Linked DNA regions of Homo sapiens: regions 1, 2, 3, 4, 5 and 7 are each linked to region 6. The links come from fine-mapping of genetic effects on gene expression. A gene starts in region 6. Each other region holds a variant in brackets. All regions are shown on one strand. Distances are from middle to middle. Region 1 overlaps BAIAP2 (BAR/IMD domain containing adaptor protein 2). Region 2 has its middle 2.5 kb from the start of CHMP6. Region 3 overlaps BAIAP2 (BAR/IMD domain containing adaptor protein 2). Region 4 overlaps CHMP6 (charged multivesicular body protein 6). Region 5 overlaps BAIAP2 (BAR/IMD domain containing adaptor protein 2). Region 6 holds the start of BAIAP2 (BAR/IMD domain containing adaptor protein 2). Region 7 overlaps BAIAP2 (BAR/IMD domain containing adaptor protein 2).

What was found.
Region 1: its variant is fine-mapped to the expression of BAIAP2 in lung (TOPMed, PIP 0.96).
Region 2: its variant is fine-mapped to the expression of BAIAP2 in whole blood (INTERVAL, PIP 0.92).
Region 3: its variant is fine-mapped to the expression of BAIAP2 in blood mononuclear cells (TOPMed, PIP above 0.99).
Region 4: its variant is fine-mapped to the expression of BAIAP2 in whole blood (TOPMed, PIP above 0.99).
Region 5: its variant is fine-mapped to the expression of BAIAP2 in tibial nerve (GTEx, PIP 0.99).
Region 7: its variant is fine-mapped to the expression of BAIAP2 in monocytes (TOPMed, PIP 0.99).

What each region holds. Positions count from the first base shown.
Region 1 is chr17:81,087,235-81,091,234 of GRCh38, forward strand. The region is part of intron 6 of BAIAP2 (BAR/IMD domain containing adaptor protein 2); the gene reads left to right. Among named protein-coding and RNA genes, the nearest start is that of MIR657, 36 kb to the right of the region's middle. RefSeq lists an enhancer at 2,497-2,998. The variant T/G (reference allele first, on the strand shown) is at 1,781.
Region 2 is chr17:80,987,261-80,991,403 of GRCh38, forward strand. No RefSeq gene overlaps it. Among named protein-coding and RNA genes, the nearest start is that of CHMP6, 2.5 kb to the right of the region's middle. RefSeq lists an enhancer at 1,937-2,126. The variant G/A (reference allele first, on the strand shown) is at 1,969.
Region 3 is chr17:81,100,314-81,104,313 of GRCh38, forward strand. It overlaps BAIAP2 (BAR/IMD domain containing adaptor protein 2), which reads left to right. Exons shown (of 14, transcript NM_001144888.2): 8 at 3,189-3,410; 9 at 3,594-3,795. Among named protein-coding and RNA genes, the nearest start is that of MIR657, 23 kb to the right of the region's middle. RefSeq lists enhancers at 1,388-1,905, 1,906-2,422. The variant GT/G (reference allele first, on the strand shown) is at 2,418.
Region 4 is chr17:80,995,010-80,999,009 of GRCh38, forward strand. It overlaps CHMP6 (charged multivesicular body protein 6), which reads left to right. Exons shown (of 8, transcript NM_024591.5): 3 at 10-97; 4 at 663-749; 5 at 1,998-2,063; 6 at 2,252-2,332; 7 at 3,357-3,411. Among named protein-coding and RNA genes, the nearest start is that of CHMP6, 5.2 kb to the left of the region's middle. The variant A/C (reference allele first, on the strand shown) is at 2,474.
Region 5 is chr17:81,054,170-81,058,169 of GRCh38, forward strand. It overlaps BAIAP2 (BAR/IMD domain containing adaptor protein 2), which reads left to right. Exons shown (of 14, transcript NM_001144888.2): 3 at 3,712-3,798. Among named protein-coding and RNA genes, the nearest start is that of BAIAP2, 21 kb to the left of the region's middle. RefSeq lists enhancers at 1,930-2,821, 2,822-3,711, 3,712-4,000. The variant G/A (reference allele first, on the strand shown) is at 2,296.
Region 6 is chr17:81,032,667-81,036,666 of GRCh38, forward strand. BAIAP2 (BAR/IMD domain containing adaptor protein 2) reads left to right here and starts at 2,485. Exons shown (of 14, transcript NM_001144888.2): 1 at 2,485-2,642. The coding sequence starts at 2,589. BAIAP2-DT (BAIAP2 divergent transcript) reads right to left here and starts at 2,053. Exons shown (of 2, transcript NR_026857.1): 1 at 1,899-2,053; 2 at 1-732. RefSeq lists a silencer at 2,121-2,430 and an enhancer at 2,302-3,297.
Region 7 is chr17:81,071,884-81,075,883 of GRCh38, forward strand. The region is part of intron 3 of BAIAP2 (BAR/IMD domain containing adaptor protein 2); the gene reads left to right. Among named protein-coding and RNA genes, the nearest start is that of BAIAP2, 39 kb to the left of the region's middle. The variant T/C (reference allele first, on the strand shown) is at 1,893.

The DNA of each region.
Region 1 (4,000 bases), 55 kb after region 6:
CCAGTCACCCAGGTAGAAGCTTCTGGGCTGCACCCTGGGGTGGGCAAGGTGTGGCTGTGGGTGAAGCCCGGGCCTCCAGGCCGCACCCTTCCTGCTGGCAGTCAGGTTTTCAAGCCTTGGCAAGCCCCGCACACACCTGCCCGTGTGCGTGTGTCTGCGTGTGTGTGTGCGACCGTCTCCTTGGTGCCGGATGTGGGTGCTCATGAGTGGCTGTGGCCTCGCCCTGGGACTGGGAGGCCGGTTCCTGCTCAGAGCCTGTGCCCCCGCTCCCTGCTTAACTGCAGGGAAGCCAAGCAGGTCTGCCCACACCCTGCAGACCAAGCCAGAAGATTTCCAGTGTGGGGTCGCCTGGTGGAGCTGGATCGGCCCCAAAGGAGAGGACGGGACTAGGCCAGGGGCAGATGAGAAGGATAAGTGAGAGTCTGTGGAAACAGCCATACGGGGGAGCTGGGGGTCCCTCGGGTGCCCGCTGCTGTTTGCAGCCTCCCACTCAGGCATGCTTGGTGCACAGTTGCAGGGACGCAACTCAGGCCGTTCTCTAGGGTGCCCTGCCCTCTCCAGCCACCTCTTCCCGTGTCCCCAGCCTTTGTTTTGATCCTGTTTTTCACTCCAGGTAAGCTGTGATGGGTCTTTTGATCCTTTCCGTTTTGCACTCCGGGTAAGCTGCCATCATGGGTCTTTCTATGATGGGCCCATCATGGTGGCCTTAGTATTCCTGCCTGAGGCTGCTGCAGCGAGCCGTCCTCAAGCTGTTTCTGTGAACAGAACCTGAGCAGTGGGCATGGGGAGTTGAGGAGGAGAAATAGGTATATGTTGGTAGACACTGTGTCTGTTTTTCTTCTTCCTCCCACCGTGGAACGTTTTGCTACTTTGCTTTCTGAAGACAAGCAGCGGACGGCACCCCTGCGGCCTGGAGGGCCATAGCCGCCTCCGAGCAGGTCAGGACAGTGCAGGTGTGAGCCAGCCCTGAGCACCGAGGCCAGGTGTGAGAGCTTGTCTTAAGGGGGACTTTCCTGGGAATGTCCCCAGCTTGGTGTTCTGGGGATGGGGATACTGAGGCCAGTTCACTGAGGGCTCAGCTGCCTGCTGGGGGTCCAGGAGCTTGAGCTCCCTTCTGCCCTCGAGGCTCTGTGGGTTTTTGCTAACAGCGTTTTTGAGATATAATTCACATCACCAGCAGTTCACCATTTCACGGGCACAGTCCAGTGGTTATGAGTGTTTGCAGCTGTGTGTCCATCACTCAGTCCGTTTTAGAGCATTTTTCAATCAGCAGTCACTCCTGGGCCCCTGGCCCCACCAGTCACCAGCCTGCCATTGGCCTCCGTAGACTTGCCTGTTATGGACATTCTGCGTAGCTGGAATCCCACAGTGTCCGGCCTTTGGTGCCTGGTGGCTCACGTGGCACGGAGGGTTCTTAAAGCTCATCGTGCCGTAGCCTGCGCCAGCCTCCTCCCCTCTTACTGTCGGGGGTCAGCCTTTCTTCCTTTTCATGGCTAAATCGTGTTCCATCGTGTGGGTACCGGAGGCTCCATCCTGCTCAGGGCCAGGGCCGTCTCCCTGGCACGGCCGGTACTGCCCTGTGGCTGAGCTCGCTGGGAGCTGGAGATCGCGGCGGGGTAGCATAGGGCCGGACAAAGGCAGAGGCTGGGGGCTGTCGGAGCCACTCCCCCTCCCTCCTGCAGGCTGGAGCCAGAGGCCTGAGGCCCCCACGCAGTCACTGTGGCCCTGCCGCACCAGCTCCCTGGTTTTCAGGTGCCCTGCCTCCCACTGCCAGGCCTCT[T/G]CAGGAGGGCCCTGACCGCACACCTGGCCTCTGCCTGCCCTCCGCGCTGCTCTGCCGTGGGCCCCGGGTGGTGGGATTTACTCCCGAGGCTGTGTGTGCACAGCTAGCTCCTCAAGCCCATCCCACACAGGGGTTTTGGAAGACCTTCTCCTTGCTGATGGCTGGTCTGTCTGTTTGCTGCATGTCCTGGCACTTTTGAGGTCTGTTGGGGGACCATGTTGGTGCCTCAGGGGCCCTGGAGGCAGGTCCCATCTGTTCTTCTCATGGGGGCTGTGAGCCACCTCCAGTGCCTCGGTGGACCCTTCGTTGACTGGCCCAAGGGTCACCTGATTCGCAGCCACAGGGGGCTGGACCTGGCGGTGACTCGAGGGGCCTTGGCCCTGCCTCAGTGCTGTGGTCCACGGTCTGGGCAAGGGGCCGCTGCTGGGTGCCCCAGGGGCTGACTGAACCATTTGGCAACAGAACTAAGGTGGCTGGTGGCTGGGCCCGTCCTGGGGCCCCTTGAGTGCCCTTTCGTGGTAAGCCAGGTGACCCAGTTTTGGGAGTAAGCCACAGCACCTGTTTCCCAACGGCTGCCACAGTCGTCACAAAGCCCCCCTCGTCCGCAGGAGGGCAGGCGGAGGGGGAGAGGGAGGGGGTCGTGGCCTTACAGGCTGTCTGCGTCCTGATGGGCCAGACCCCGGAGCCCGGCAGGGTCAGGAATGAGGGCAGCATTCCCATCTGTGGCTGCTAGTTGCCGAGGCAAATGGTCCCCCTAGCACCTGTGAGTGGGTCTGGGCGGGGACCATGTGGGCGGAGAGGGCAGGCAGGGCCCCGAAGCGCATGGTAGGTGGAGGTTGCAGTGGGTGTGAGGTGAGGGTGGCCCAGCAGCCCCCTTGGAAAGGCCTCTGCCACCCGGTACAGAGACGCTTGGCGAGCCTCATCTTCTCGGCCTCCCAGGGCCCCTCCTGGGAGATGTGTGGTGCTGGTCTTTCTTCCCAGGTCCCAGGGGCCCTGCTGTGGCTCCCCAGCCCTGGCTGAGCAGCCTCCTTTCTCTAGAACTTGCAGCTGCTCCTCCCCACTCACCAGGGGACCTGTGGGTGGCCCCAGGCTGGACTGTCCCCACCTGGGCACAGCCTCAAGGCCCTGGTGTCAGGCTTAGGCTTGGATCTGGCTCTGTCCCTTATGGGTCATGTGGCCGCAGCAAGCCCCAGAGCTTCTCTGAGCCTCAGTTTCCCCATTTGTGAGGGGGAATATCCTGGCTTTCTCCCTCTTCTGAGCACTGACGGGAAGGGCTGTAGAGCCAGGATGAGCCGACATCAACCTTCTCACGGTGCCTGCGTGGGGGCTCTCCTGGACGGACCTCCGCCTCTGCTCCTCCCCATCCGCCTCCTTCCTCTGTCAATGGGAGACGGGGCTTCAACTCTTAACCACACAGGTGTTTTATTTTTGTGGTTTTTCCCAAGTCACCGAGTTTCTTCAGGAAGGGCTAGGTCTCATTTCTCCTGCGTCCCACTTGGTGCCAAGCACAAGCTGGTCACGCAGCAGATAGCTAGTAAGTGCTAAGTGGTTTCGAAACAACATTTTGGGGTGGGAAACAGAGGGAGCCACACCCCGGTGTGCTTTCTGCTCCCCAGTGGCCTGGAAGCCCAGGAGGCCAGGCCTCGGAGCCGTCAGCATCCCCAGCCCCACATCGGAGTTTGAGGGGGTGGGGCACTTGGTATGTGGCTGCGTACGCGCCCCCCGAGCTGCGGGGAGGCTGCGGCCACCATCCTGGGGTGAGTGCCATGTGGCTGCCTGGCTGGGATGTGCTGCCGGCCTCGCTGCTCCAGGCCCCTTGCCCCACCCAGGGCTGTTCCTGCTGGTTCCCATTGCCTTTGCAAACCCGGCCAGCGGGCTCTGTGGGACTTCTACTTTAGGGTGTGGCCGCTGGGGGCCCAGCTGTTGCATGTCCTCTCCACTTCTGAAGAGAGGAAGCACCCTGGGCTGGGGAACTGGGCTGGCTGGCCCCGCCTACTCATGTGCAGCCCCGCCCCTCCAGTGCATTCCACCCCGCCCCCACTTGTGTGGACCCGCCCCCACTTGTGTGCCCCGACTTGTGTGGTGCAGGAGGCCCTGCCCTTGCTTGTGTGGCCCCACCCCTTGGTGCAGGAGGCCCCGTCCCTCCAGTGCACCCCACCCCCATTTATGTGGCCCCACCCCACCCCACCCCACCCCACAGGCCTCCTAGCTGTCCCTAAC
Region 2 (4,143 bases), 45 kb before region 6:
CACCCTGCAGTAACTTCCTCCACCACGGGCAGGGACAGCCTGCAGGGTCCAGCAGAGCCCAGGGCAACTTCCTCCACCGCGGGCAGGGGAAGCCTGCAGGGTCCAGCAGAGCCCAGGGCAACTTCCTCCACTGCGGGCAGGGGCAGCCTGCAGGGTCCAGCAGAGCCAGGCCCAGCCTTGAGTTGGGATGTTCTTCCAGGTTCTTGGTTTCTCCTCGTGTGCTCCCTGTCTGTCCTAGAAACACACGCTGCTTCTGGCACTGCTATTCCTGTATTCCTCAGAGTTCTCTTGTAACCTTTTAATAGTGAAACCTCCTTTTCTAGTTTATAATTCTTTATATTAAATGTTCCTGTTCAAATTACTGGTGTGGTTTCTGTCTCCTGCCTGGAACCTAATGGTACAGAGTTAGCACAAGGAGAGGTCCCAGGAGGGCATTTGGGGACTGTTTGCATCGTCCCTAGGGTGTGAATGCCTGGCTGAGTTTCCTGCCAATGGGAAACGGGGTGCTGGGCCCCACTTTGCAGTGGATTTGCTGTGGCCTCTGGTTGGGTAAAAAAAAGGGCTGGGTGAGACTGGTGCCGGGGTGCCCAAGCGGCTGCTGCCCTTCAGAGCAGAACAGCAAGGACACCCCAGGACTGTGGACTGGGGGTTCCTGCTCCACACACTGGGCGTTCACAGCAATCAGATGGCTGGCAGGAGCAGCTCCTCCCAGGCCTCGGGTCAGCTGAGAGGCAGAGAATGTTCGTGGCAGCCCTCACAGGAGCTGCTGTTTGTGGTCCCTACGGGGCTGACATTGCTGGAAATCAAACACAATGTTCAGTCCCGCGTGTCACCTGATCACAGGGTCAGCTGAGCGCACAGCCTTGCCCGTGTCCTCACTTGAGAGGCAGAATGCTGACAGGACAGCACCCCTGACCCAGAGTGGAGGCAGCGCCCGGAACCCCGTGGAGCTCACAGTCGGCTCCTGCCAGGGTGCCCCGAGGCTCCCTTGCCAGTGGGAGTGGTGGTGGCTGAGGTTGCTGGTGCTCCTGAGTTTGAAAACCCTCAAGAGCCCACCGTTAAGACCCTTGTGAGAGGTTGCCGTCCTCCCCAAGCCAGCACAGCCACCTCCTGTTGCCTACAATTAGCATCAGATCTTAGGGATCCGGGACAGCGTGACACAGAAGACAACAGCTCATGCTGGGACTTGGGAATTTTTTCTGTAAGAGAACAAACAGCACCCAGGCACGGTGGCTCACGCTTGTAATCCCAGCACTTTGGGAGGCCGAGGTGGGTGGATTACCTGAGGTCAGGAGTTTGTGATCAGCCTGGTCAACTTGGTGAAACTCCTTCTCTACCAAAAATACAAAAAAAAATTAGCTGGGCGCGGTGGCAGCTGCCTGTAGTACCAGCTACTCAGGAGGCTGAGGCAGGAGAATCGCTTGAACCTGGGAGGCAGAGGCTGCAGTGAGCTGAGATCACACCACTGCATTCCAGCCTGGGTGACAAAGTGAGACTCTGTCTCAAAAAAAAATAAAAATAAAAAATCAAACAGTAAATATCAGGCTCCGTGAGCCACATACGGCCTCTGGCCACCTTGCTCTTGCTCTTCTCCTTCTCCCTCCTCCATTCCTCCTCCTTTTCGGTGTGTGTGTGTGTGTGTGTGTGTGTGTGTGTGTGTGTGTGTTTTACAATCCTTAAGAAATGTAAAATCCACTCTTAACTCAAAGGCTGTACAAAAAAATAGATTCCAGGCCGGATGTGGCCCGCAGGCTGTAGTTTGGCAAACCCTGGCTTACATGCTACAAGAATTCAGAGATATTTCAGATAGATATCGCGGGGAACCTGGGGAGAACCTGCGGGAGTGGATTCGGGGGGGTTGGACCGGGAACACCGAATCGGAACACTAGAGGGGGCTGAAGTCCCTGATCTGGGGGCCTTGATCGCTCTGCCGGGTCTGCAGCTGCAGCCACAGCTAAGCGCTCCCTC[G/A]CGCGACGGCTGAAGCTCAGACCCAGAGGCCCGCAGGTCACGAACCCAAGACCCCAGACCCTCCATGGCCTGCTGTGGAGGAGAGAATCCGAAGGTCCACGGACAGGCAGTCCGTGAGTGTGACCTGCACGCCCACACCCAGCCACGCCCTGCAGGCTCAGAAGCACCACCTTCCCGGACGTGAGGAACACCCGGGCGAGGGGAGCCCCTGCACCCTGAAAAGTCCTGCTACTGCTCTCCTTCGTAGGCCAAGTGTGACCGCGGGGAGAGGGGTGCCCCGGCAGAGATGCGCTCCTTGATCTCCATGGGGTGACACATCCCAGAGCAGCAGCAGGACAGGGGGCAACCGCCGCCGTCAAGTCCCACGCGGGCTGTGTGTGCCAGCGGCGGCAGAAGGAACTGGCGCTCGGGATGCCGTGGCCTGCAGGGTCCTCCGGCGAATCACAGTGCCCAGGGTGAAACAAAGGGTTGGCAGACCAGAGTGCTGTTTGTCTTACACAACAGAAACAAAACTCTGGGTCTGGTGGCCAAACCTGACTTGAGTCACCACAGTGGACAGCCACGGCCTCTCACCTGTTTCCAGGCTGAGCCAATTCACAGACCTGGAGCCCTTGAGTTGGGGGCCAGGTTCCTTGAGGGAGACCCCTGAAGCATTGCTGCAAGGAATACAGCAGCAAAGCCACGGGAAGAGTCCCCCAAAGGGACCTGTACCTGTTTACCAAAGTAACTGTGTAACAGAGGGAGGGAAATACTCAAGCGTCTCAGGAATGACAAGACACTGGCATCAAATGGATTCCAATTCCTTTTCTTTTTCTTTTTCTTTTTTTGGAGACAGAGTATCACACTGTCGCCCAGGCTGGAGTACAGTGGTGTGATCTCAGCTCACTGCAACCTCCACCTCCCAAGTTCAAGCGATTCTCCTGCCTCAGCCTCCCAAGTAGCTGCGATTACAGGTGCATGCCACCATGCCCCACTAACTTTTGTAGTTTTGTAGAGACACGGTCCACTATGTGAGGCCAGGCTGATGTCGAACTCCTGACCTCAGGTGATCCACCCACCTCAGCCTCCCAAAGTGCTGGTATTACAGGCGTGAGCCACCACACCTGGCCAGATGGAGTCTGCTAGAGTCTCGGGGATTTTATAGGGACAGGATGGGGGCGTGGCAGGCCAGGGTGGTCTTTGGAAATGCAACATTTGGGCAGGAAAACAAAAATCCCTGTCCTCACCTAGGTTTGTGGGCACAGGCGGTGGGGGGATCCCTAGCCAAGGATCACGCCTTCCTCTACCCAGCTCTTCCTTCCCCCTTCATGAGGAGCAGGGAGTAGCAAGTCTTTTTTTTTTTTTTCCTCAACGTCCCCATGGACACCAAGGAAAAAAGTACTTCAGATGTCTTGGTGAGACAAATCAGAGGGTGGGAGATGAACCCCACAAAAATTCAGGGGCCCCCTCACCTCAGTGAAGGTTCTGGAGTCCAGAGGTTTGGAACAGGTGATAATTATTCTCCTTTTGATGTTATTTGTTATATTTTTTGTAGAGACGGGGGTCTTGCTATGTTGCCAGGCTGGTCTTGAACTCCTGGCCTCAAGCCATCCTCAGCTGAGTGCTTTTCTTTGACACTTAGTGAATGCTCAGGAACCACAGTCAGGATACTCAGGCGGGAACCGGGGTGGCTTCTCCCTTTTACCCTTTATCCCCATTCATGTGTTTCTTAGCCCCCCAGGGAAGAATGCTTCTGTGGGGGACGCAGCCACGATTCCTTGGAAGGAGAAGCTGAGCCCAGCCATGCTGGTCTCCTCCTGGCACTGATCTACAGACAGGGAGCAGCGCAGTGGAAGAGGGAAGATCCCAGGGCTGAAAGGCTGGGTGGAGGGCGCTGCTGGTCGCATTTCAGGGAACATTTTAAAGTGCAAAGCGGGCCGGGTGCGGCGGCTCACGCCTGTCATCCCAGCACTTTGGGAGCCCGAGGTGGGTGGATCAGAAGGTCAGGAGCTCAAGGCCAGCCTGGCCAATATGGTGAAACCCCGTCTCTACTAACAAACATTAGCCGGGTGTGGCAGCAGGCACCTGTAGTCCCAGCTACTCAGGAGGCTGAAGCAGGAAAATCACTTGAACCCGGGAGGCAGAGTTTGTAGTGAGCCGAGATAGCGCCCCTGCACTCCACCCTGGGCGACAGAG
Region 3 (4,000 bases), 68 kb after region 6:
ATGGGCTTTCAAGGCCTTCTAGAACATTCTTCTAGAATGTTCTTGGCTCTTCTGCCACAGCCATGTCCTGGGCAGGTGCAGGCTGACGCCAGGCAGGGGACGGTCATGCTCCGTGCTGGGTGCCGGAGTCCCGGTGGGACACCTGGTGGGTGGCCTCTGTGTCCTCACTTGCTCTTCCTGTGGCCCCTCTATCCACAGTCCTGGGGTACAGCCTCTGGGCTCATGGCTCTGCTCACCCGAGGCACTGAGGACCCCCAGCCCCAAGCCTGGGTCCCCAGCCACCCAAGACCACTGTGCCACTGGGCCCCTAGGCCACCCAAGACAACCATGACACTGGCCCCAGGTCCAGCAGCTGCCATAGCTCGGCTGTCGTACGTGGACCTGCCACCCCTCACCCAACCCAAACCTGCCCTATCTCTTTGCTTCCTGGGTAGCCAGGGGCCCTGCCTGGCTCTCAGGTGGCCTCCCCAGTCCCTCCCTCACTGCTCCAGAGTGGCCTCCCTGGGACTCAAACCTGGTCACAGGGTCCTCCCCTGGCTCCCAGGCTCTTGGTGACCTGTGCCTCTACCACCTCTGCCTGCACCCCTGAGCCACTGTGGTCCCAGGTGGGGCCTTGGGTGGTGGCCACATGCTGCTGCCCTCGTGACCTCTGAGAGACCCCTCTGCCCGTCATCTGTTGAGGGCCCCTCCTTGGGCCGGTAGACTCTTGGCCCTGTGTTTCCCGCTAGGCGTCCCCCGGCACAGTCCTGCGGCCCTGTGTCTCCCGCTAGGTGTCCCCCGGCACAGTCCTGCGGCCCTGTGTCTCCCGCTAGGCGTCCCCCAGCACAGTCCTGCAGCCCTGTGTTTCCGGCATCCCCAGCCTTGTCGTTCCTTGTGGGGGAATCCCGCCCTGGGATCCGCCATGTCCCAGGACCAAGCCTGGCCCTGCTGAACCAGGAGCGAGTTCCTCAGGGACGGGCTGCAGCAGCCCCCTCCATGGATATCCTGAGCCCCGATGTGAGCAAGGGGATCCCCTCCTAGGAGGCTGACTTAGCCCCCAGAGCAGGCAAGGCCCAGAGGCCAGACTCCCCACCGGGAACAGGCAGGGCCAGCAGGCCCCTGTTCACCCATAGTCCATGGGTAGGAGTTGGGATGGGATCACATGTGTCCCCTGGAACATTCTGGAACATTTCAAGAGTTTCGAAGATGTAGTTCCGGAGCCAAGCCCACCAGGGAGGCCCTGGTCATGTCTTTCTAAAATAAAGGGTTGCAGGGATCCACGGGCTATACCTTGACACTTGTTCCCCCCACCCACCACACTCTCATGTACGTGCGCGTGCGTGCACACACACACACACGCACGTGATACAGAACCAGTGCTCCAGTCCCCACAGCCTGGGGACAGCCAGGAGACAAGTGCTCTTCCCTCCCTGGAGAGGCCCCTCCTGCCGGCCTGGGCCTGCTGGGCACTGTGGGCAGGTGCAGGCAAGGACAGCAGCAGCACCTTTGACCCCTGGAGGCAGCCTCGCTGCTGAAGGACTCAGCGGTGACAGGCTGTGCTGCCACAGCTGCCAGGCAGGGAGCGCTGTGGAGCGCAGGCCTCCCGCCTGCTAGACCCAGGACAGTGGCGGGCGTCTGCGCCCTCTGGCGGGGGCCAGGCCCCATGACGGGGCCAGGGAGTGAGAGCGGGGCTGTCAGTGGCTGGGGTGCTGCCTGCAGGGATGGAGGGCGGGGAAGCCAGGCTGCTTGCCGCAGGTCTCCCAGGAGGGGTTGCGGGATGTGCCTGCGGTGGCAGCAGCTGACCTCCTGGGCTCGTGGGCCCCCGGGCGTGTGTGGAAGAGGCCTGTGTCCCACAGACCCACTTAGAGACGAGCCTCTGGGCTGGGGGCCAGGGTGTGAGGGCAGCCTCCCAGGGCAGTTCGTAGTAGCTCCCTGGTGCTTGGGTTTGGGCCTGCCTCGGGGCTCTCAGGGTGCGGGGGTGACGCTGGCTCGTGGCCGCTGTGTCAGGGCCGTGCCGCTGCGAGGTCGGTGTCCCTCGGCCGTCTGCCCTAGTGCTGGTCCCTGCTGGCCTCTCCGCGCCACCCAAGACTCACTCCTCTACCACTGATCTCAGCCAGGGCTCGGCAGACGTTCTGAAGGGCCACAAAGTTTGTGCTTTTGGCTCTGTGGGCCGTGCCGTCTCCAGCTCTGTTACTGCAATGTGAGGGCAGCCATGAATGAATGATTCACAAATCGATGCACAGCTGTGTTGCAATAAAACTTTATTTACAAAACAGGAAGCCAGCCCTCGGGCTGTGGTTTGCTGACCCCTGGTCTGAGCCAGCAGCAGAGGGGTAGGGGTGGCATGGGGAGGACTTGCTCAGAATGGCTGTCGTCCAACATCCTCCGTGGGTCCCCAGCGTGGGTGCCCAGCCACATGTAGAAGGGAACGGGGATGA[GT/G]TGGGGGGAGCAGTGAAAGCCGGAGAGGCCCCCAGAGGTGCCAGAGACATAGCAGTTCTGGCCCACAGCTTAAGGGTCTGGGGGTCCCGGGAATCCAGGCCCTGCAGCCTGCTTAGGCCAAATGGCCAGGAGGGGCAGGGGTTACTTGATTAGCTCCCAGGACCCAGGCCCGGCCGGCTCCCAGTCCCAGAACCTTTCTCCATGCCTGTGGCTTCCTCCTCCTTTGTCCCCACTGTGCTCAGCTGGTCTGTGTCCAGCAGGCCGCAGAGTACGCCCGAGGGAGCGCGGGCTCTTGGGCCCAAGGGCAGTGGTTGGAGCAGTGAGCCTCAGTGTGTCTGACGGGGCTGCCTTCCTGCCCTCGGCAGCCAGGCCTGACCCCCACTGGGCAGCACCACCCCCTCCCCCGGCCATCTGGGGCGCCTTCCTGGCACTTTGGGGTTTGCCCACCGGAGTTTGACCTTGTGCGTCCCTGTCCGTTCCTCCTTCCTCCAGGCCCTGATGGGCCCCGCGGGCGTTGAGCCTGGGTTTGCTCTCATCCCTGGAGGTCCCCCGACTGCATGGCTTGTGGTCCATCCCCGGCCCTTTACCGGCAGCCGCTTCTGTGGGTTGGGGTCAGAGGCTCACGGGTGGCCTGTCTCGCCGAGAGGTACCACCTGGTGAAGAGCAGCCTCCAGCCCCAGAGAGTGCTCAGGGAGGGCCCTCAGCGCTGTGCCTGGCTGCAGGAGACTGAGCCGGCCCTGACCCCTCCCTTCCTGCTGCTTCCACTTCAGGGCAAGGAGCTGCTGGCGCAGAAGCTGCCGCTGTGGCAACAGGCCTGTGCCGACCCCAGCAAGATCCCGGAGCGCGCGGTGCAGCTCATGCAGCAGGTGGCCAGCAACGGCGCCACCCTCCCCAGCGCCCTGTCGGCCTCCAAGTCCAACCTGGTCATTTCCGACCCCATTCCGGGGGCCAAGCCCCTGCCGGTGCCCCCCGAGCTGGCACCGTTCGTGGGGGTGAGTCTGTGGCCTCTGGAAAGCTTCACGGGTGTGGGTGGGAGGGCAGCTTGTTGTCAGGGCGGGGGGCCGCCAGGGTGCAGAGTCCAGGGGCCCCTGCTGAGGGGGCGGAGGGTTCTCTTTCCCCCTGGTCTTGCCCGGGGTGGGCTCCAGCAACAGCCTGCTCTGCCTGCTTCCCTGCAGCGGATGTCTGCCCAGGAGAGCACACCCATCATGAACGGCGTCACAGGCCCGGATGGCGAGGACTACAGCCCGTGGGCTGACCGCAAGGCTGCCCAGCCCAAATCCCTGTCTCCTCCGCAGTCTCAGAGCAAGCTCAGCGACTCCTACTCCAACACACTCCCCGTGCGCAAGAGCGTGACCCCAAAAAACAGCTATGCCACCAGTAAGGGCTCCGCTGGGGTGTTGGGCTGGGGTCCCTGGACGTGCCTCCTCAGACCCTACAGTCATGCCACAACCCTCAATAGGGGCCTGGGAGACCCTGAGGCTCACAATTATGTGACCGTGTGTACCTACATGCATGTGGTACACACACGTGTGCCTGCCCAGCATCCAGCTCCCTCTTGTCAAGCCTCTGGTGCTCAGTGGGG
Region 4 (4,000 bases), 38 kb before region 6:
CCTCTGCAGACGGGCCAAGCTGCTGCTCAAGAAGAAGCGATACCAGGAGCAGCTCCTGGACAGGACGGAGAACCAGATCAGCAGCCTGGAGGCCATGGTAGGCGGCCGGGTGCTTCGCCCTGGAGTGCAGGTGCAGCTGGAGGCAGCTCCGCCCGGCTGCGTGGACATCAGAAATTTCTCCCGAGAGCTGAAAGCTCCTCTCAGATGCCTCGGGCTGAAGCTGACCTGAAGAGGGGCGGGCCTGGAATCCCGGGGAGTCTGCCAGGAAGCTAATGGTCTTAAGAGGCTGGGGGGCAGGTTGGCTCTCGCAGGACTGAGGTGGGGAAGGTTGGGCCACCCCTGGGTGGTGTGGGTAGGTCAGGGGTCTGCATGGGGACTGAGTGTCCCTGGTGTTAGGGACCCGAGCGGCGTGGTTCTGCTCTTTGGTAACCAGAGCTACTAACAAGCAACCAGCGGTCCCCTGAGTGTGTCCCTGGCACCTGCTCAGTCCTGCGCATCCCCACCTGGCAGTGGGAGAGGACAGGGAGGAGCAGGTGTCAGGAGTCACCCTCACGCCCAGCAGCACCCGCCCAGCAAGGGTGTCATCCTGAACCCTGCCCCAGGGCCGGGAGGAGGGCACCCCGGATCCTCAGCACCTGCGTCTGCTCTGGTTTCCTTTTCAGGTTCAGAGTATTGAGTTCACCCAGATCGAAATGAAAGTGATGGAGGGGCTGCAGTTTGGAAATGAGTGTCTGAACAAGATGCACCAGGTGAGTCTCTGCAGGGCCAGGGGCATGGAGGTGTGGGGAGCCCATTGGGCTGGAGCTGGGGATAGGGCGGGGGGCTTGTCCCACGGTGTTCGTGTCAGACACAGGGCAAGAGGCTGGCAGGGGAGATGTGTTGGGTGCTGCCAGGCAGGCAGGGATGCAGTGACCGGGTGCAGCACAGGCTGGGAACTGTGGGAACTGGGTCCCCAGGCGCCGAAGTGACATAGAAGGGAAGTCTGAGGGTGGGGAGGGGGCTGGCAAACTAATCACAGAAGGCTTCCTGGAGGTGGCGGGTGTGGTGGCTCACACCTGTAATCACTTTTGGAGGCCAAGGCAGGCAGATCACCTGAGGTCAGGAGTTCGAGACCAGCCTGGCCAACATGGTGAAACCCTGTCTCTACTAATAATACAAAAATGAGCCAGGCGTGGTGGCAGGCACCTGTAAACCCAGCTACTCAAGAGGCTGAGGCAGGAGAATCTCTTGAACCGGGAGGCAGAGGTTGCAGTGAGATGAGATTGCGCCACTGCACTCCAGCCTGGATGATAAGAGCAAAACTCCGTCTCAGGAAAAAAAAAAAAGAAGGCTTCCTGGAGGAGGTGAATACCGGCCTCATCTCAGGCCGGGCATGGATGTGAAGCCCAGCGTGGCCATACCACGTTCCCCCACCAACCCCATCACACTCCTGACATGGGGGCCAGTAGGTGGGGCTAGTTGGAGAGCCAGGGACTCACCTGGCGGGAGGTCTGGCTGTGCTACTTTTCCAAGTGTTTGGTGAGTACTGGTGGTGTGTGCCGGTCAAGCACAAGTGGCCCTTTGACCTTTTGCCACTCAAAAGAAATCAAGTCACCTGCCCAGAATGTTCTACCTGTTGCTTGTTTTTACTGGCGGCTGTGAGAGCTGACTCAGGGTGAGAGGGGGCATCGGGCGCCAGGGCAGTGCAGTCGTGGCCTCTGAAAAGACTCATCAAACGGCCCCTGTGGCCTCAGGACAGGCCCATGCCTGGGACACACATGTCCTGGCCTCATTTAAACAGGGACAGGAGCTGGGTGTGGTGGCATGCACCTGTAGTCCCAGCTACTTGGACGGATCGCTTGAGCCCAGCCTGGGCAACACAGCCAGACCTTGTCTTTAAAAATAAATAAAAATAAACAGAGGGGTGAGGCCATGGCCCTGAGAGCCCAGGAGGCCTCTGTCGGGGGTCTACCATTGGCCTCGCGACAGGGGTCAACACCCATCACCCTCGTCCACAGGTGATGTCCATTGAAGAGGTGGAGAGGATCCTGGACGAGACGCAGGAGGCCGTGGAGTACCAGCGGGTAGGTGGCACCCTGACCGGCCTGCCCCCAACTGTGAGAACCCACAAGGCCACCCTCGAGGGCCAAACTGTCCCACATCCTAGAGCGGCCGCCTTCTCTCAAGGGGACGAGACCCAGCCACAGGCCATCTCCTTCCTCCCTGAGGGGCCACCTCCTCGCTGCTCTCACCACCGCCTGTCCTTTTGCAGCAAATAGACGAGCTCCTGGCAGGAAGCTTCACTCAGGAGGATGAAGACGCCATCCTGGAGGAGCTGAGCGCAATCACTCAGGTAACGGCCCCCCCGGGACTGAGCACAGTCACTCAGGCAGCGGGACCCCCAGAGCTCAGACCCCCAGGAGGCCCTGCCCATGGTGATCTCGTATGTGGTGTCCTTTAAGTAAATAGTCTGCGGTTTGTGACTGGTTTTCCT[A/C]CCTGAGGTGACTCTGTTTTCAGGGTTGCTCACCCAACGGTCTGGTGCAGGCAGGCTGGCCCCGTGCCCTGGACAGAGCGGGGGTGCTGGGCCTTCCTGGCGCCTCGGCCCCTTTCTGTCCCCGGCTGTCACGGATGTGGTGCTGGCTTTCCCCAGCCGTGGCTGCTGACTCACGTCCCACATAGGCCCTCGCTGCGGGGGCCGCGTCCTGGCCCCAGGCTCACATCCAGGCTCTGAGTCTGTATTCACTCCCCGACACAGGGGTTGTCCTCTCTGTGGGCCCCTGCCTCAGTCCGCCAAATTCTCATGGTGCCCCCAGAGCCGGCCTCTGCCCCAGCCCTGCTGCCAGCTGCCCCGGCGCCCTGGTGCTGTGCGGCCCATGGTGCCTGCACCCACTTGCTTGTCCAGTTACTTTCTCCTGAGGGTCCGAGTCCTCCGGGGCCTCCAGGGAAGGCCAGCTGAGAGGCAGAAGCACCCGTGCTGGCTTAGGCAGCCAAGCTCGCTGGGACAGCGTTGTACCGCAGCCCACCCCGCAGTGGTGGACACCAGCGTGACCTGGGTGTCTGTGTCACCCACCCCTCGGTCCCTGAGAGCCAGGGTCTCTGGGGCACACCCAGGACGTCGCCTCCTTACAGCCCCTCAGCGCCCCAGGGTCTGTTGGGAGGAGCCTCCATGGTAGCGGCTGCGTCACCACCTAGGGGATTCTGGTGGCACCAGAAGCCGGGGCGGTTGCAGACTTGGGTCTTCTGAGCAGCACGTTCCTGTCCGCTTTAACTCCGGCTGAGAGCGGCTGACGGACAGGATCCGTGTCCTCTCGGGGAGGCCCAGGCAGCCCGGGGCAGACCTGTCACCTGCTCATAGCCTTACCCTTTGCTTCTTGCAGGAACAAATAGAGCTGCCAGAGGTTCCCTCCGAGCCCCTTCCTGAGAAGATCCCAGGTATTTCCATGTTTGATTCTTTTGAATGGTTGGAATTCGCAGGAGAAAAGTGGATTCTAGAAGGGAACAAGACAGAATGCTCCCAGGCCTTCCTGGGCCGTGGGCAAGCCCTGCTGCCTGGCTGTTTGGCTTGGGGGCGTGCGTGCCTGGCCTTGGGGTTGGGCTTGGGTTTCCCAGGGGTTCGGTAACTGGGCAACCTCATAAGAGAGCCATACCCCATTCAAAGAGACACATTCAGAAATCAGAACTGGGGAAAGGCTTCTTTAGCAGCACCAGCTCATTCCCAGGGTGTAGCCCAGGATTAGCCCTCAGCCAGGGATGGCTCTCCCCGTGGCACCATTCAGCACAGGCTCTCCAACCTGCCCACTGGGAAGCTGACTTTAGAACCGTCCATCCACGTTTGTTCTGTTCCTTTACCCATCTTTGGGGCTCTTCTCCTCTCTGAGTCCCGCTGGGAGGGGCTGTGCTTTCCTGGCCCACTGTCCCGTGTCCCTGGCCCTGTCTGTCAGCCCCATTGGCTTCCTGTTTGTCACTTGCCTCCCCCAGAGCTGGGCGTGCCCTTCCCTAGTGCGAAGTCCCCGGAACTGGC
Region 5 (4,000 bases), 22 kb after region 6:
GCTGGTAGAACTGTGCCCGGGCCCCGTGGGGTGGGAGCTGCCTCCTGAGCTGGTAGAACTGTGCCCGGGCCCCTTGGGGTGGGAGCTGCCTCCTGAGCTGGTAGAACTGTGCCCTGGCCCCAAGGGTGGGAGCTGCCTCCTGAGCTGGTAGAACTGTGCCCGGGCCCCGTGGGGTGGGAGCTGCCTCCTGAGCTGGCAGATGGACTTGGGCACAGCCTGTGGGGCCTGGTCAGGAGCGAAAGGAGGTCTTCTGTTCCAGCAACAAAGCTGGACAGCGGCTCTGAGTGAAGGTGTAGCCCATGCATTCTGGACTGGGTCTGCTGTCACTGTGGCAGCACGCCCCTGCCTGTGCGGGCTGCTCTTGTCCTGTGGCATCTAGAGACGGGAGGGGTGCGGATGTCAGTCCCTCAGGATCATGTAGAAACTGTGGGATCAGGGCTGGGATGAAGCTGTTGGTAACTGCAGCAGCTTCGGGTTTGAGAAATGAGCGAACGCCCTGCAGCTCCTTCTCACAAAGAGCCGGGACAGAGGGTGTGGGGGACTGGTGGCTGCAGGGACATTCCATTCTTCCCACTGTCTCCCTGAGACGCTTCCCATCGCCCCCACCCCACCCAGGCACTCCACTGCGGGGCCTTGGGTGCACCTGGGTCTTTCCGTCCTGGTGGGGAGTGGCTTCCTTGTCGCCAGATGCCCTTCTCACCTGCCCTGTTGGCCCCGCAGGTGCCCTTGGCTGAGTCCTGCCATGGATGGGGACTTGCTATTCTTGGACAGTGACCCCCGGTCTCCCTGTACCCTCTACCGTGTCTGTCCCTGTAACTGCAGCATCTTCATGGGCAGAGTCCACATCCCCAGCAGGGAGGAGATCGTGTGTTTTCCGGGACACGTGCTGCGTCTCTGCCGGCGCCCCCGGCTCCTCCACCGCTTCCTGGTGTTGCGGCACCCATGGGTTGGGTGGAGTTGGTTGTCCAGTTTTGGTGCCAGGTTAGAGGTGTCAAGGACGGGGCAGGAGTTGGTCAGCCCTCGTTCCTTTTTTACCACCTTTACTCCGTTGTCACCTGGGGAGAAAGCACTCCAACCGAGCACCTGGCAGAAGGCCTGTCCCTGGCACTGCCCTCCTTCTCAGCTCCCCAGGTGGACCAGTTGTGCCCGCCTGCCACATCTAGTTGGGGGTGGCCTTCATGTTTCCTTGTGGGCATGAATGGGACAGGGAGCTCCCTTGGGCCACCTCCTGTTTGCACCCGGCACCCTGCAGGGGCCCCCATGGCTGCCCCAGCAGCAGCCTTGTTTCTCTCCACCCTGCCCCTCCTCTACATCCCTGGGCCCGGGGTTGCACCCGAGGGACCTGCTCATCAAAATTGTCTTAAAGAGCTGTCCTTCCTCCAGCGAAAGTCTGCAGGGTGTTTTGTTTTTTTTTGAGACGGAGTCTCACTCTGTTGCCCAGGCCAGACTGCAGTGGCGCTATCTTGGCTCCCTGCAAACTCTGCCTCCCGGGTTCACGCCATTCTCCTGCCTCAGCCTCCCGAGTAGCTGGGACCACAGGTGCCTGCCACCACGCCCGGCTAATTTTTTGTATTTTTAGTAGAGACGGGGTTTCACTGTGTTAGCCAGGATGGTCTCGATCTCCTGACCTCGTGATCCGCCCGCCTCAGCCTCCCAAAGTGCCTAGGATTACAGGGGTGAGCCACCGCGCCCGGCCGTCTGCAGGGTTTTCATGACAGTGGAGATGCTTGGGCTGTGGCAGTGACCCCCGTCCCCCAGCCAGGAGCTTCTTGGATGAGGTAGTGGAGGTCGGCAGCAGAGCCTGTGGCAGCTCTGAGGGTCGGCGTGGCCTCCTGGTGGAAGTTGCACCTGGTTTGCTTCCCTATGGTGCACCCCAGTTGTTGGGCAGCTTCATGGGGGTCCCAGGGAGAGCTGCCTTTGCCTCTGGCCTGAAATGTTGACGCTGGAGAGAGGCTCCCGAATCAGAGTAGGAAGGCTGAGGCCCGGCTCGAGGTGGGTGCAGAGGGCTTCCAACTGTGGTGACCCCATGATCTCTAGGCACAGCACACGATGTCCAGATTCTCCGGGCCCAGCTAAGTTCCGTGCCCTGTGAATGAGACCAGTTGTTCATCTCTTCCTGGCTGGGTCTGAATCTTGGCCATTACAATGAGAATCCAGAGTCCAGATGATCCCACCCCTGGAGATGGGGGCTGGTCTTGCACATTGCAGACTGACGATGGCTTCCTTTTTCCAGAGCCACTCGTCTGTGGGACACTTGGTGACCTCATCTACGGTAGAGTCTTCCGTAGCCCTCAC[G/A]TGGCTCTCCGAGGTGTGGGTTTCTTCCCCGTCGTCCGCACACGGGGAAGTGGTGTGGATGCCGCTTTCAGTGGGTTGCGGTGGGGGCCGGGGCCTGTGTTCCCCTCCTCTGGGTGAGCAGGCACTTCGGCCCTTTGATGCCACCAAGGCGTGGGTTCCGTTCGGGCCTTTCCGCTCCTGTTTGGTTCCTCATGAGGGTGGCGGGGCTGAGTGTGGAGACTTGGAGCTTTACTTCCTGCTCCTGCTTTTCTTGATGGCCTGGTGGGAATGAGCTCGGCCGTCCAGGCAGCACCGCCACCTTAGCCGCAGCCAGCCGCCCTGGAGTCTCACTTCTGCTGTTGCGTTTTTCTGCTGTTGCGTTTTTCTGCTGTTGCGTTTTTCTGCTGTTGCGTTTTTCTGCTGTTGCGTTTTTCTGCTGTTGCGTTTTTCTGCTGTTGCGTTTTTCTGCTGTTGCGTTTTTCTGCTGTTGCGTTTTTCTTTTGTTCGAGGCAGCACACCCGTCCCAGGCACAGGCCTTCATTCCTCTGTGGACGTGGTCTTGTGCCGCAGAACAAATTGTGCGCTTAATTGAAAAGTATATAAATAAAATCTGATAAAGTGCCCAGTTATAGGCCCCTAAGTGGGTTCTGTAGAAAACGGATTAGAAATTGTAATTACACTGCTCTCCGGGGCCCTGCCCCGCCCTTTCTGCGGCCTGGAGGTCAGGGCGGGGCTCCCTGTCAGGTGGAGGAGTTTGCCAGGCACTCCCTGGAGTCCCTGAGGAGGAAGCCCAGGCTCTTCCAGGAGCCTGCTCCACCCCTGTGGCTGTGGAGGAGTTCAGCAGGCCCGGAGCCCTTCACACCCACTTCTGATTAGATCAGACTCTGCCTCTGAGATGCTGGGAGGCCCCTCAGGCGGCGGCAATACCAAGTAATGCCTTTAGCCTCCTTTGATCAGCTGTGACGGGCGTCCTGGTCTGAGACTGTGAAGCAATTGGAAATAGTTCTCCCACTCCAGGCTCAGCTTGGGGATCTGTGGGGAAATGGCTTCCTACTGCCCAGCTCTGCAGTTTCCTTGCCCAGGGTTGGTTCTTTGTCTCATGAAATACAGTTAGTACAACACTCCCTCCCCCCGGCCCTGCCTGGTAGCACGTGATAGGGATCAGCTCTCTGCAATTTGACTTGAATAGCTCAGGACCTGAACTGGTACGTTGTGTTCTTACGAGTCAAGGGAGCTCTCATGATTGGGGTGAAACAAGAATATCAACAAGAGATGGGTTCTGTCCAACCCAGAAATCACAGCGAGTCGAGTATTCTCCCAGCTTGTCTGGGCAGGAGACAGGGTTGGGCCTGTGCGTGCCAAGACTGCCGTGTTTTTGCTGGGGGTCTTGTCTGTCCCTCGTGGAGGAAATAACTGCTCCCTTTTCTTCTCTCTCAGGTGTGACGTATGCAGCCAAAGGCTACTTTGACGCCCTGGTGAAGATGGGGGAGCTGGCCAGCGAGAGCCAGGGCTCCAAAGAACTCGGTGAGACCCCCCCCCCCCCCCCGCCTGGTAGTCGCCTGATGCCCTCAGGCAGCTCTGGGGCCCTGTCCTGTGTCCAGCCGCTTTTTGATTTGGGATCAGGTTTTGCCTGTCAAATAGGAAAATATTTTAATGACAGTCACCCTGGGAGCTGCCTTGTGGGGCACACCCTGCTGAAAGTGGGTGCTGGGTCCCCGTCCCCTGA
Region 6 (4,000 bases):
TGCCTGGGGAACATCCTTGGTGGAGAACTTCCTGGAGGCCACTGGTGCAGGGCAGATGCCAGGCGGGCACCGAGTTTCTTGCCCTTGTTCTGCATTCCTAGGTATGAGGACCTCACCACGTCCTGCTCTGCGCCTGTCATCGGCCGCGGTGTGTCTCCTCAGGTGCCGAGCTGGTCACTTCCATGTACAGCATGGATAACCGTCTTCTCAGGGAAGGCCTCCAGCCCGCATTCAGCCACCTGCCCAGCCGCCGGGCGGAGGGAGCAGGCTCAGGCACCGAGACTGCTGAGCCACTGGCCACCCGGGAAGCAGGCTGCGTTCTGAGTCGGTCACCGAATATGTCCCCCCTTGGACGGGAGTAGCGCAACGATGTGCAGGCCAGCTCAGGAAGTAACGCTGGGAGCTTCTAGAAGGTGGAGCGGGATCCAGGACCGTGGGAGCTTTTCCGGAGAAGCCTACCTCTCCTGTGTTGCAGCTGATGGGAGCAGCAGGGCCTGGAGAAGAACTGTCCCCAGGCTGACTCCCCTCTTGGAGTGAGGAGGCCTCCCGTGTTTGCCTGCCAGCCTCCATCTGTCATCTTGGTTCCAGCCATTCAACTTTCCTCCAGGCGAGCAGAGCTGCTCTACCCCCACCTGCTCCGTGTTGGCCCCAGACCCAACTCAGGCCAGTGGACGTCTGTCCTAGGGCTGCGTGTGAGATCGGTGGGTGCAGGGAACACAGCAGGAAGCTGGCCTAGAAGAAGGGGGTCAGGGTCAGTGGAGATGCTCCTACCTTCAGGTAAATGCCCTCATTTGTTAGGGCCAGTTTGAGCGAGCTTTCTGTCATTTACCACCAAAAGAATCCTAGAAAATAAATACACAGGGATCTACCCCCAAACACTGGAGACAATAAAGAAAAAGGAAGCAGCCAGGGCCAGTAGCTGGAAGGAAATTCAGCCGGAGGAGAGGAGGCGCGGGGCTGTGGTGGGAGGGAGGCAATGCTTCCTGAATCTTACTTCCCTGGTCTTTCCATCGGCCTGAGCCCGTGCCAGTCTGGGGATCTGCCGGCCAGCCAGCACAACTGCGTCTCCCCCAGGGGCCTGACTCGTTGAAGGAATGAATGAATGAATGATTTTGCAGGGATGGGAGGCTGGGAGACTGAGAGGTTTCATTAAACGGAAACGCTCAGATCTGGTGTTTCACAACGTAAAACAAATAATTCCTCTATGTTAGCCTAATTTATGTAAATATTTCTCCACGGGAATTGTACCGGGAGACCTGTGTGCCAACTCGGCCAGCTTCCCCGGCAGAATCTCCCCTTGGGAGGACCCTTAAGCAGGACCCTTCCTAAAAATTGGAGGCAGCTCTGACTCCTCCATTCCTCCTACAAGGTTCCCCCACCCCCTAGGGCTTTCCACCGCATGAGAGTCCTCCGGGCCCCTCGTTTCCTACTGCCCTCGACCCTTCCTTCCCGAGACCTCTCTCTCTCAGTAAACTGCCTCCAACGAGAATCTTCTGACGGCAGGAGGGTCCTCCCCGTCCCTAAGGGTCGCCCTGTCCCCAGGCCTTCCAGCAGGACACTCCCCTGTCCCCTCTCCAGATCCTCCTTCCCAGGGCCCTCCTCCAAGATCCTCTTCCCCAACCCTCCTCTCCCAGGGTCCTCCCCTCTCCAGAATCCCGGCCCCAAGCCCCCAAGCGCTGTCTGCCTGTCTGGGGTCCTCCCCAGAGTTCACCTTCTGCAGGATCCTCCCTCCAAGTCCTCTCCTCACGATGCTCCCCCGAAATCCTCCTTCTCCAAGTCGTCCCCCACTCCAGGGCCGAGCTCTCTCCAGGGTCCTCCTGCAGCACCCCCTCCCCCAGGGTTCTCCTCTCTGCCCCGAGGGGCCGGCCGGGGGGTCGCCGCCCGCCCGGCGGGCTTACCTGCGAAGCGGCGGGGTCGGGGCCTCTCCCACCTGTAAGCCCGGCCCGCGGCGTCCTGCGTCCGAGCCGCTCCCCGCCCCGCAGCGCCAGGCCGCGACCCGGCGGGCCGCCCGCCCCGAAGTGCCACTTCGCGAAGTGCCGCCTCCACGCGCGCTGCCGCCGGCGCCCCCCGCTCTCCTCCCCGCACCTTCTGCTCCTTCTTCCTGCGCCACCCCGCCCCCGCCTCCCCGCCCCCAGCCCGGCTGTTGCCCGGGCCCCCTCAGGCTGCTCCCAGGGCCCCAGCCCGCGCCGCGCCTCCCCTCTCCTCCCCCAGGATCGACGCCGCCGCAGACCAATCGCTGCCTGGAGTCGGCCACTAGGCCCCACCTCCGATCCCGCCCCCCTCCCCCTTCTCCGGAACCCACCAATGGAAAGGGCGGTGCGGGGGCGGGGCCTGGCGGTTGCCTAGCAGCGGCAGCGCCGGGCGGGGGCGGGTGGTCGGGGGCGGTGATGCGGGCGCAACGGGGGCGGGACGCAGGGGCGGGGACTGCCGCGGGGCGGGGCCTGAGGCGGCTATAAAGGTGGCCGCCGCCGGACGCCGGGCTCTGTGGTTCGGGTCCGCTTTCGTCTCCGTCCTGCTGCCGTTACCGCCGCTGCTGCCGCCGCTTGCGTCCCCCGCTCCGGTCTGTGGTGCAGCCGGGACCCAGGACCATGTCTCTGTCTCGCTCAGAGGAGATGCACCGGCTCACGGAAAATGTCTATAAGGTGAGCGCCCCCCGGCGCCGAGCTGAGCCCGCTCCGTGTGCGCCTGGGTCGCGCGCCGCCCGCGCGCCCGAGCCCGACCAGGGCGGCCCCGGGGCCGCGCGCCGGGCCAGGAGGCTGGGACTTTGGGGGTCTTCCCGGCGCGGCCACCCGGGACCCGGGCTGCTGGGGTGGTGAGCCCGGCGCCGGCCGCTCACAGGTGGCCACCCCCGCCCGGGCCCCCCCATCCCATGCGCGCCGCGGCCCGGTCAGTCCCCAGCCCCAGGCCCGGGGAGCACTCCCCGCTCCGACGGCCCTGCTCGGCCCCCGCGCGCTCGCCTTGGCGTCGGCGGGAACGGAGCCGCGCGCCGGGCCCCGGAAGCCCTCGGACCGGTCGGGGTCGTAGCACACCCGGGCAGGGCCGGGGCGGCGGGGGCGGCGGGCCCAGGGGTTGCGGCGGCCAGGACGGCATGGGGGCTGTCTGAAGGCCGCGGTCGGCGCGGTGGCACCGTGGGGCTCCTCCAGGCGCGGTTGCGCGAGCCTCGGGCACTTCATTCTCAACAGGCTTTCCCTTCCCACAACTCCTGCCCGGCGCCCATGCTGGGGCCTAAGGTGGGAGGTCGGAGCGCGGGCAGGCTGGATGGGTGGACGGATAATCTATCATCTTATGTAACCGCGGAGAGAGAAGACTAATTGTGTAGGAGGCTGACGTGCCTGCCTTTGCTTCAGATGTGTTAAGAGTGGCATCCACGTTCTCGTCTGCGAAATGACAGGTTCACATCCAAGGGCCGCAGAGCACCGCTGGAAGCCTCCCCTGCCGCCCCCTCCCCAGTCGTTTTTGTGGCTGGGATACCGACAAACAGGCCCTTGGTTTTCTCTTTCTTCAGCATCCGTTCTCGGTCCAGACCCCCACGCCTGAGCCCGGCAGCTGCCGGGGAGCATTTTCTCAGAGGAGAAACCCCTGCTCTGGGTGTCCCTGGGTCCTGGGCGATCTCTTACAGATGTGCTTTGTTTCAAAACTGTCTGCAGGTTCAGTGACAGGCTGGGCGATGAGTGGAGTGGGTATTTACCCGGCAGTCGCTGGTTCATGTTTCCTAACCGGCTTGCACCCTGCCCGGCAGAGTAACTGTTTCTGATTGTGGTAGGCGGCCAAGGCGTGCCTGGCCAGGGGCCTGGGAAGCCCTCTTAGCTCTCAGGCTTGGGAGAGCCAGATGGAGGCTTCAGGGGTGGCCCCTCTGGTTCCAGCTGGAGTGCAGGGGGCCGATTGCACTTGAATACAGCTTTCAATAAAGCTTGTGAAGTTGGGGCCGCGTCAGTCTGGAAGGTTTCTGAAGGCGGGTGTGCGGTCGACTAGATGAGTCCTAAAGCCACGTCGGAGCCAC
Region 7 (4,000 bases), 39 kb after region 6:
CACGGAGGCGCCGGAGCATGCAGGTCTATGCCTCTGCAGAGTCTGGGGCATCTTGTTCCATTTCCTTGCTGCCTCTCCTCTCGTCCGTGATCATCCCCCCCTCCCCCTCTGCTTCCGGCCTCCCCGGCCTTCCCAGTCTCTTGGGCCATCATCGTGGTTGTGTTGGTCCTGTTGCTCCTCCTTCGAGCGCCCACGTAGGGCTGGGGTTCCCTGCGGGCTGTGGGTGCCGTGCCCTCCCCGGCTGGCTCCAGCCCTCAGAAGCTTGGGGAGGGTGGGCTGGGCCATCTGCATTCCACCTGCCCAAGGGCTGCCACTCCCTTTTCCCAGATGGCTGGAGTGCCCCAGGGCAGCGTTGGGAGACCTGCGCAGGCCCCACCTCAGTCCACAACAATGTTCCTTGATTCCCTCCGGCTTCCTGCTCCTTCACCTCCTCCTGCGCAGCCCGGCCTGACCCATGTAATCAGGGAACAGGAGGGGCTCTCCTCAGTGTCCCTATGTCCATGCCTTGTGGCCACCTGAGCACTTCTCAGGGTCCAGTGGAAAACTCTCCTGCCCTGTTTGACGCCCACACTCGTCAGTTTCACCTTGGTGCCAAGAGCAGACGATCTGCTCCAGGCCCCACTTGGGCCACAGCCTCACAGCCGTCTCCACGTCCCCACCCGAACCTGGCATTTCCTGAATTCCTGGCCCCTGTCCGAGAAGGAGGCTAACCCTCCTGGGAGAGCTCTGGCAGGTGCTGACCCAAGTCCGTGGGGTCTTCAACCTTTGCAGACACCTGCGCCCAGAGGCCACGCCTCCCACTCTGAGCACAGGCGGGCGGACGCTGTCTGGCAGGCTCTGCCTTTCTTTCATTTTTCCTGACCTCTTCGCCCAGCGTCCTCTGCTTGGAGGTGGGTGTATGAGAAGGGGCCATTGGTGTCAGAGTGGGGCTGTCTGCTGAGCAGGTGAACACACCCCCAGTCCTTGCTCTGGGGCCGGGCTGTCCCGTGGGCCTCACGGACCTCATTGTCTGTGGTCATGAGCCTGCATCTTACTGATTTAATCCCGGGTGCCGGGTACAAACATGCACGCTTCCCTGATGAGAAAATGGCATCTGGCCTGGAGCCCCTTCCCACAGCCCTGGGTATTGGGTGCCTGTCACCTCCAGGATGACCCCCAGCCAGCAGACAGGTAGCAGGTGGAGGGTACCTGCTCTGGGGCCCTGGTGGCCCCAGTGGGTTGAAGCTCTCTTCGTAGGTGGCGTGGGGCCTTCTGTCCCCATGACCCTCCAGCGGCCCCTCCCCATGCCAGGGCTCAGCACCCCTGCTCCTCAGAGATCGAAGCCTCCTTCTCGGACCTTCCCCACCACTGTGGTCCCAGCTTCCTGTGCAGTCTCTTGGTTACCCAGGAGTTCAGAACTTTTACCACCTGGGGTGCCTTTCAGATACTCGGACCTCTTGGTTTGTAGGAGTACCAGGCCGGGGTGGGGAGGTGGAGGCTGTGCTGCTCCCCTCACCCTGGGCTCAGCCAGGGCCGCCAGCCTTCTTCCTGGGAGCAGTCACCAAGCTGGTCTCGGGCCGTGCTTTGGTAGAAATGATCTTTTAACTGACTAAGCAGAGTGTTAACTGAAATCATCATGAAATGCTGTTTATGCTCCATTTGGGATTCGGAGTCAAGCATTTGGGGACCCTCGGGCAGGGTCTGAGCTGCTGTTTGCCCTCGCAGATGAGGACGACGATCTGCACAGATCTGCCTCCAACCCTGGGCTGAGAGCATCCGAGGCCCAGGCTCTTCCCTCCCCCAGTCTTTTTCACTGTCTCTGAGATTCACGCTCTCTCTCAGGTTCTTGTCACTCGCAGACTATAAGAACACGTTGTATTTTCTGGAGTAAAAAAAGGCACAAATCTTTAAAA[T/C]GTCACTGTTGTGAAAGCCGAAGTGTGAGGGGCTCTTCTAGGTTAAAGGACTAAAGATGCCCAGCGCCCCAGAGGAAGGGTGAGAGTCCTCTGGGAGCTGGCAGGCGCCAGTTCCTTGTCGCTCACGGTTAAGCCCGTGTATCACTTATTTGTCTCAAGTGCTTATGGAGCAGTCTTCCAATAGGTGGAATGCTGATTTGTTTTCCTAAAATGAGAGAGACTAAAGCCACGTGCCAACGCAACACAGCGGGACCCTTGATGAGAACCTGGATCAGGGAGGAGCTTGTCAATGGCATCGTCGGGCCATTCAGGAGCATGGTGTGTGCTGTTGATGAGAGGAGGATGCGTCTGTGGTAACCTTCCTGTGTGTCACAATGGAGGCGTGATGAGGCAGAGAAGGTCCTTGCTCTTAGGACACAGCTGCAGTATTGGGGGCAGGGGCAGCATCACATTGTCTGATGTCTGCAGTTGAGTCTCAAGGGGCTGAAAAAAGTGCCTGTGTGTCTGTGTGCATGCATGGATACGTGTGAGTGCCGGTGTGTGTGCATGCACGGATACGTGTGAGTGTGCGTGCACTGGTACATGTGTCACTGTGTGTGCGTGCACGGATACGTGAGTGCTGGTGTGCGTGCATGGATGCGTGTGAGTACGTGTGTGTATGCACAAATACATGTGAGTGCCAGTGTGTGTGCATGCACGGATACATGTGAATGCCTGTGTCTGTGCGTGCATGGATGCGTACGAGTTGCCTGTGTGTGTGCACGTGCACAGATGTGTGAGTGCCTGTTCGTGTGCGTGCATGGATGTGTGAGTGCCTGTGTGTGCGTGCACGGATGCGTGAGTGCCTGTGTGCGTGCACGGATGCGTTGAGTGCCTCTGTGTCTGCGTGCACGGATGCGTATGAGTGCCTGTGTGTGTGCATGCACGGATGCGTGTCTGTGCGTCTGTGTGCGTGCACAGATGCGTGTGAGTGCCTGTGTGTGTGCACGGATGCATAAGTGCCTGTGTGTCTGTGTGCATGTACGGATGCGTGTGAGTGCATGTGGGTGTACCTATACATCACAGAAAGAGTGGTGAAGCGATTGTGGCAAAGCACACCGCCAGGGAACCTCGGCGAAGTGAATGGGTGTTTGCTCTGCTATCCCTGCAACTTCTCTCCAGGTTGGAAAGGTTGGGCTGGGAAGAGAATAATGTAGTTCTGTTTTCTAAACCACAGGGAAGAATGGGCTTGGCAAAGCCATGACTGACAGTGCTTTCTGTCTCCTTCACCTTCCCACTGTGTTGAGCCAGAGCCATTCGTGGGAACCCCTGGGTGTGGTTGTGAAGCCAGCCTCGGCTCAGCTCACCCACAGAGCTGTCTCCAGCCACATTTGCATTCCGGCTGTGCCCACATTTGGCATTGGGGGAAACTTCCTGGTGCCTGTGATTTCAAGCCGGCGGCCAGGTCTGCGCCTGTGCTGGGTCTGGGGCATCTTGTGGCACTTCCTTGCTGCCCTCTCTCTTCCGGGACCATCCTCACCTCCCTCCCCATCCCTTCCCCTGTGCTTCTGGTCTCCCCAGCCCTCCCAGTCTCCTGGGCTCAGCAGATGACCACCCAGGGCATCCCCGGTTTGGCCTCAATCTTTGAATCGTGTGAAGCGATCGGAAGGAGCTCGGCCGTCGCCTCAAGTGGGCCGCCTTCCGGTGGGCTCCCTTCCTGTGGGCCGCTTGCATGCCGTGCTGTCTTCAGGGATGAGCAGTTAATCCTTCTCGTTCATCTGCTCACTAGACGCGGCTGTGTCAGAGCAGTGCCTGCCTCCTTGTGGCCCTAACCTTGTGGGGTGCTCCTTTGAGAGCGTCCTGAGTGACCCTCTCCAAGGACCCTACCTCCACCTGTCCACCAGCCCTCCTTGCCTTTAACCCTTTCAGTGCTACGCGTATCACCACACTCCCTCTGTGCCCTTCTCCCCCAGGTAGGGGCCACTTAGAACACTATGGCAGCCTTTGGTGGGCCTCAAGTCCTGCTCCTCCCCTCCGTGGGCACATTGGGGCCCCCAGTACTGCCCAGCCTTTGCACTGGCCAGCCACAGGCTCCATATGAGGCCAGCTGGGCACTGCCATCTCTGTCC